2 separate regions of the Homo sapiens genome follow, and region 2 is linked to region 1. A link means that fine-mapping ties the variant in region 1 to the expression of a gene that starts in the linked region. Tissue or cell type: whole blood. Region 1 holds a variant in brackets; the other region holds the start of a gene. All regions are shown on one strand. Distances are from middle to middle.

Region 1 (2,679 bases):
ACTAAAAATACAAAATTAGCCGGACATGGTGGCGGGTGCCTGTAATCCCAGCTACTCAGGAGACTGAGGCAGGAGAATCACTTGAATCCGGGAGGCAGAGGTTGCGGTGAGCTGAGATCGCACCATTGCACTCCAGCCTGGCCAACAAGAGCAAAACTACATCGCAAAAAAAAAAAAAAAAAAAAAAAAAAATAGAAGTTGGACCAGAGGAGGTGCTCAGTGAATCTAAAATCCATAGCCCATAGCACAGCCTGCCAGGCCCTGCAAAATCTGCCCACCAGCTCATCTCCCCCTCCTCCCATCTCTTTCCCCTCTCTCCTTGTCTCCCTCCCTCTCTCCTCCTTTCCCTTCTCTCCTTTTCCTTTCTCCCTCTTCCTCTCCCCCCTCCCCCAACCACATGGGCCTCCCAGTTTTTCTTTGCACTGCCAGGTGCATCTCACCTCAGGGCTTCCCTATTTCTTCTTTTTTTCTTATTCTTTTTTTTTTTTTGAGATGGAGTGTTACTCTGTCACCCAGGCTGGAGTGCAGTGGCCCGACCTCAGCTCACTGCAACGTCTGCCTCCCAAGTTCAAGTGATTCTCCTGCCTCAGCTTCCTGAGTAGCTGGGATTACAGGTGTGTGCCGCCATGCCTGGCTAATTTTCATATTTTTAGTAGAGACGGGTTTCACCATTTTAGCCAGGCTGGTCTGGAACTCCTGACCTCAGATGATCTGCTCAACTCCACCTCCCAAAATGCTGGGATTACAGGTCCCTCTATTTCTTCTGCTTGGGATGAGAGCCCCCTCCCCCGTGTTCAGGTCCTGGCCATATGCTGCCTCCTTTAGAGGCTCCCCTGATTACCCTCTCTAAGATATCATGACCCCTGCATCCCTGCCTCTCCCATGGCTCTGTCTGCCCCTGTCCCGGCTTTAGTTTTCTTCCTGGCCCTTCGGATCCCACCTGACATTATTTATATATTTATTTGTGTATCATTCTCCAGCCCCTACTTTCATGGAAGCTCCAGTCTGTATCCCAGCACCTAGAACTGTGCCCAGCACAGTGGGCCCCCAATAAACATGTACTGAATAAAATATTTGGCCGGGTGTGGTGGCTCATGCCTGTAACCCTAACACGTTGGGAGGCTGAGGCAGGTGGATCGCTTGAGCCCAGGAGTTCAAGACCAGCCTGGGCAATATGGCAAAACCCCATCTCTACAAAAAATACAAAAATGTGCCGGGCTTGGTGGTACACGCCTGTAGATCCAGCTACTCAGGAAGCTGAGGTGGGAGGATCACTTGAGCCTGGGGTGTTGAGGCTGCAGTGAGCCATGACTGCACCATTGCACTTCCGCCTGGGTGACAGAGCAAGACCCTGGCTCAAAAGAAAAAAAAAAAGTATCTGTGGAATGACTAAGCGTTGGCTGAGTTGTTATTTTTTTTTCCCCACTCCCTCTCGCCTTGTATGCACTCCATCCAGGAGCCCTTATTGAGGTACTGGGTTCCTTCTCTGTCACCCAGGCTGGAGTGCAGTGGCACAGTCTCGGCTCACTGCAACCTTCACCTCCCAGGTTCAAGC[G/T]ATTCTCCTGCCTCGGCCTCCCAAGTAACTGGGATTACAGGTGCAGGCCACCATACCCAGCTAATTTTTGTGTTTTCAGTAGAGCCAAGGTTTCACCATGTTGGCCAAGCTGGTCTCAAACTCCTGACCTCAAGTGATCCACCCACCTCGGCCTCCCAAGTGCTGGGATTACAGGCGTGAGCCACCGCGCCTGGCTCTCCCTGCATCTTAATGCTTTTCTGGTTGGACTGGGTCCTCCCCACTTCTCATTCAGGGCTGGTACCCGGGGGCCAGAATGGGAGGAGGGAGACCAGAGGGTCTTGTACTCAGAGAGGCCTGGTACTCTCCATGCACCTCATATATCAACCTTCTAAAAAGGTTTTCTGAGCCCCATTTCACAGATAGGAAAGCTGAGAGGCGTTCAAGGGGCTGAGAAGCAGCAGAGCTGGGGCTTGAGTCCGCCTGACAGGAAGTCATTATTCGCCCCAAGTAAACACCCAGTGCCTCTTAGCCAAGGAGGGCAGAAGTATGTCTGGGTGGGGGTGGCAGGGAGGTGTGGAGGTGGGAAGGGGCCTTCAAAGAGGGAATGTCTGAGCCAGGCTTTGGTCTGCTCCCTGGTGGTCTCACCTTACATCCCGGGCCCCTCCCACAACTGTCCTTCTCCAGCCCCCGCATTTAGGGAGGCGGTGGTCTCTGCTTTATTATTATTTTTGCAAACTTTTATTTTAGGCGCAGATTTGTTATATGGGTAAACTCATGTCACAGGGGTTTGTTGTACAGAGGCTTTCTTGACTCATCTAAAGGCCTTGAACCAAGGGTTGGCACCGCCTTAGGAATTCTGAGCCAGCCCCAGGGGACGAGGGTGCATTGCCGGCGGCCCTGTCATCGGCTCCCCAGGGCAAGCAGGGGCCACAGACAGCCAGCTGCCCCATGTGTGTGCTTGCCTAGGGTCCTCGTGAGTTCCCACGTCCTCTCAGGGAATCCCAACTGTCCCAAGGAAACCCAGGCTCAGAGGAGGAAGTGGCTAATCAGCCGCACAGAGGGAGGATGTGACAGGCACCACGCTTTGGGGCTGGGTTAGAAATTTGAGTCCTCCGCTGTGGTGCGGCTGGGGAAGTTAAATAACTTGGCACTCCCTCCCCCAA
Region 2 (2,679 bases), 92 kb before region 1:
GACAAGAAAACTGAAGTTCAGAGGCAGCTCAGCCCAGGTCACACAACGGCAGCCTGCAGGGTGGGAATGTGGCCCCTCTTGGTCTACCAGATTCCCTGCATGGCATTTGTTGGCACAGGGCCCGGCTTCCCACTTTCAAGATAACCTGATGGTGTCAACTCGGCCCAGGTCCCTGCTAAGGCGCCGTCTTTCTCCTCCCTTCCACCCCACGGGCACCCTCGGTGGGCCTGAACCTCTGCCTAGGACTCCAGCCTCCCCAGAGCCCCTTTGAAGGCCTCCTCCTCCCAGGGGCTTCCCTCCCTCCTACTCAGCCAGGGAAGGAAGTCCCGGCCACCACCCGCCCAAACGCAGCCCCCGGGATCACACGCATTTCCAGCCGAGGATCCTGTTACTGGAAAAAGAAAATGCTGCTCGCACCTCCCCCTCCGTCTCGTCCTGCCTCCTGAGCTTGATGGAGAGAAACTTTGCAAAGGAGCTGGCGCCCACCCGCTCGAGGGGTCACGGTTCCTTCCCTGAGGTCCACCCACTTGTCCTAGCACCCAAGAGGTGGGGAGCCCGTTAAGTTCCTGGAAAGGGAAGAAAGAAGTCCGCGGCCTGGGCTGGGAAGGCAAGGTGTGGGAAAGCTCAGATCCACCCTGGGTTACTTTATTGCCCGGCTGCTGAGTAAACTGAGGCACAGTGGGGTAGGAGGTCTGATCTGAGATGCGGAGAAAGATTCCAGGCTCCCCTCTCCCTGTCCCTGGCTTAAGAGGAGACCCTAGAGCCTCGGCTTCCCCCGGCGAGAGGAGGACTAAGCAGAAGCTGGGGGAATGGGGGGTCCGGCAGACTCAGGAAGGGGCGGATGAGGAAACCCCCGGCAAATGGCTGGAAGGAGGATCCCGGTCCCTAGCATCCCAGGGCATCAGGTGGCTTAGTGGCCTTAGGAGGGTCTAGGGGTCAGGGGTCGGGGTGGCGCCTACCCCTGGCAGGCCGGGTCCGGCTGCGGGAGCGGCTCCTCTGTCGCTGCAGCCGGGGCCGCCTCAGCAGCCGGTAGTAGTAGGAGGACCTCCCGGTGCTCTTCCTGGCGCTGCCGCCCGCGGACATGCTGCCGCCCGCCGGGCACCGGGCCGGGCCTGGGCGCGCTCACACGGGCCCCATCGGCCGCTCCGGACAGCCCGGCGGGCGCCCACGCGTTCTCCCGCGCTCGCCCGAGCGGCCGCCGAGGCCCTGGCTGCCCCACAAAGTCGCTCAAACTCCTCCTCCGCCTCCTGCCCCCTCCCGCTCCCCGAGCAGCCGGCCCCGCGGCGGGGGCTGGGGACCCGGAGGCCGGGCTGGCACCGGCCCGGAAAGTCAGTGCGGGAGAAATCCCGGCCTGGAATCGGCGGGGCGAGGCGGCCCGGAGTTTCCCCGGGACCCCAGACGGGTCGTCCCGAGGGTTCTGGCTCCCACCCCCGCCCCCGAGGGTTCGACCGTCGACCTGAGGGCGCACCAGGCACCCAATCCCGCCAGCGCGGGTAGACGGTGCACACCTGCTTGTGCGCTCTCCGGAGCCCGGGGTAGGACGCATGCTTGGGGACGGTCACCTTCAATTAGGGTCCGTTCCTGCCCCAGGCTCGCTGGGCTGAGAAACGACCCTCACTGCTCCGCAGGCCCTGGCCCAGCCAGGTTGAAAGACTCCCCTGTGATGCAGGATACTTGCCTCTTCTTTACGTTTTAAAGGTTGTCCCGTCTGATACACGTATCATTTTTATGTAATTAAAATTACGGTGTCTGTTTCAAGCACTCAAAGCACTGAAGGCAGGGCAGAACAATCCCTACCCTACCGTAGGCACCAGAAACTCAGGGTGGCAGAAGGAAAGGTACCAACTCCCTCTATTGCATTGGCTGAAAAACTTTCTCCAAGTCACTCCTCAGCTCAAGAGCTTTCCGTGGCTCCCCAGAGCACAATGGCAATACGTCTAAACATCCTTGTTATTTGGACCCCAAATAATCTTGCCCCAACCAAAGTCCCCTCCAGCCTCACCTCTGCTCCCCCTAATTCTCACTTCTCTTTGCTGTGCTGCCAGCAGGGACTGCCTTCTTGGCTATTTTCTCCACCCGACCAAAGTCCACCCTTTCAGGACCCAGCTCCTCCACCCTTCCCTAACCATGGCCCACAGTGATCTCTCTCTCTCCCCGCCCCTTATCTCTTTAGCAATATTCGTCGTTTAAATTATTAAGACACCTGCCTGAGCTGCCTCCTTTGAAGTACAGAGGGGGAAACTGAGGCCTTGGCAAGGAGGTCTTGCCTCAGTCACATGGAAAGTGGCAGAGGCAAGTGGTCTTAGCCTGGGGCTCTCAACATTCAGACTTAGGGGTGGGGGGTGTGAGTCACCGCAAGTGCCTGAGGCCGGCTAGGGGATCTTCCTCCAGAACAGTGGGGAAGGTGGGGCCCTGGAGTGGGCGGGGCCGTCTGGGCAGAAATCCAGGCCGGGTTTTGCACCTCACAGGGGAAGCCCCCTCCCTAGCGCTCTCAGCCAGCGGGGAGGGTCCCTAGTCCTGCGGAGCCTGTCTCACAGCTGGAAGCCAGGCGCCTTCCCTGACCAGGGGGGAGGGGCAGGAGGGGTGTTACTCCAGCAAACTCAGTCTGAGGAGTCCAGAGCTATCAGCTGCCCTGGTCCCCTCTTCCCTGAATACTGGCCAATCCCACAGGAAGATGGA

Evidence for each region. PIP is the estimated chance that this variant, and not a neighbour inherited with it, causes the effect.
Region 2: it holds the start of DAB2IP, and the variant in region 1 is fine-mapped to the expression of DAB2IP in whole blood (TOPMed, PIP above 0.99).

Annotation. Positions count from the first base shown.
Region 1 is chr9:121,558,060-121,560,738 of GRCh38, reverse strand. The region is part of intron 1 of LOC107987016 (a long non-coding RNA gene); the gene reads left to right. Among named protein-coding and RNA genes, the nearest start is that of GGTA1, 60 kb to the right of the region's middle. RefSeq lists an enhancer at 2,415-2,679. The variant G/T (reference allele first, on the strand shown) is at 1,556.
Region 2 is chr9:121,650,180-121,652,858 of GRCh38, reverse strand. DAB2IP (DAB2 interacting protein) reads right to left here and starts at 1,225. Exons shown (of 16, transcript NM_001395010.1): 1 at 960-1,225. The coding sequence starts at 1,083. RefSeq lists an enhancer at 2,648-2,679.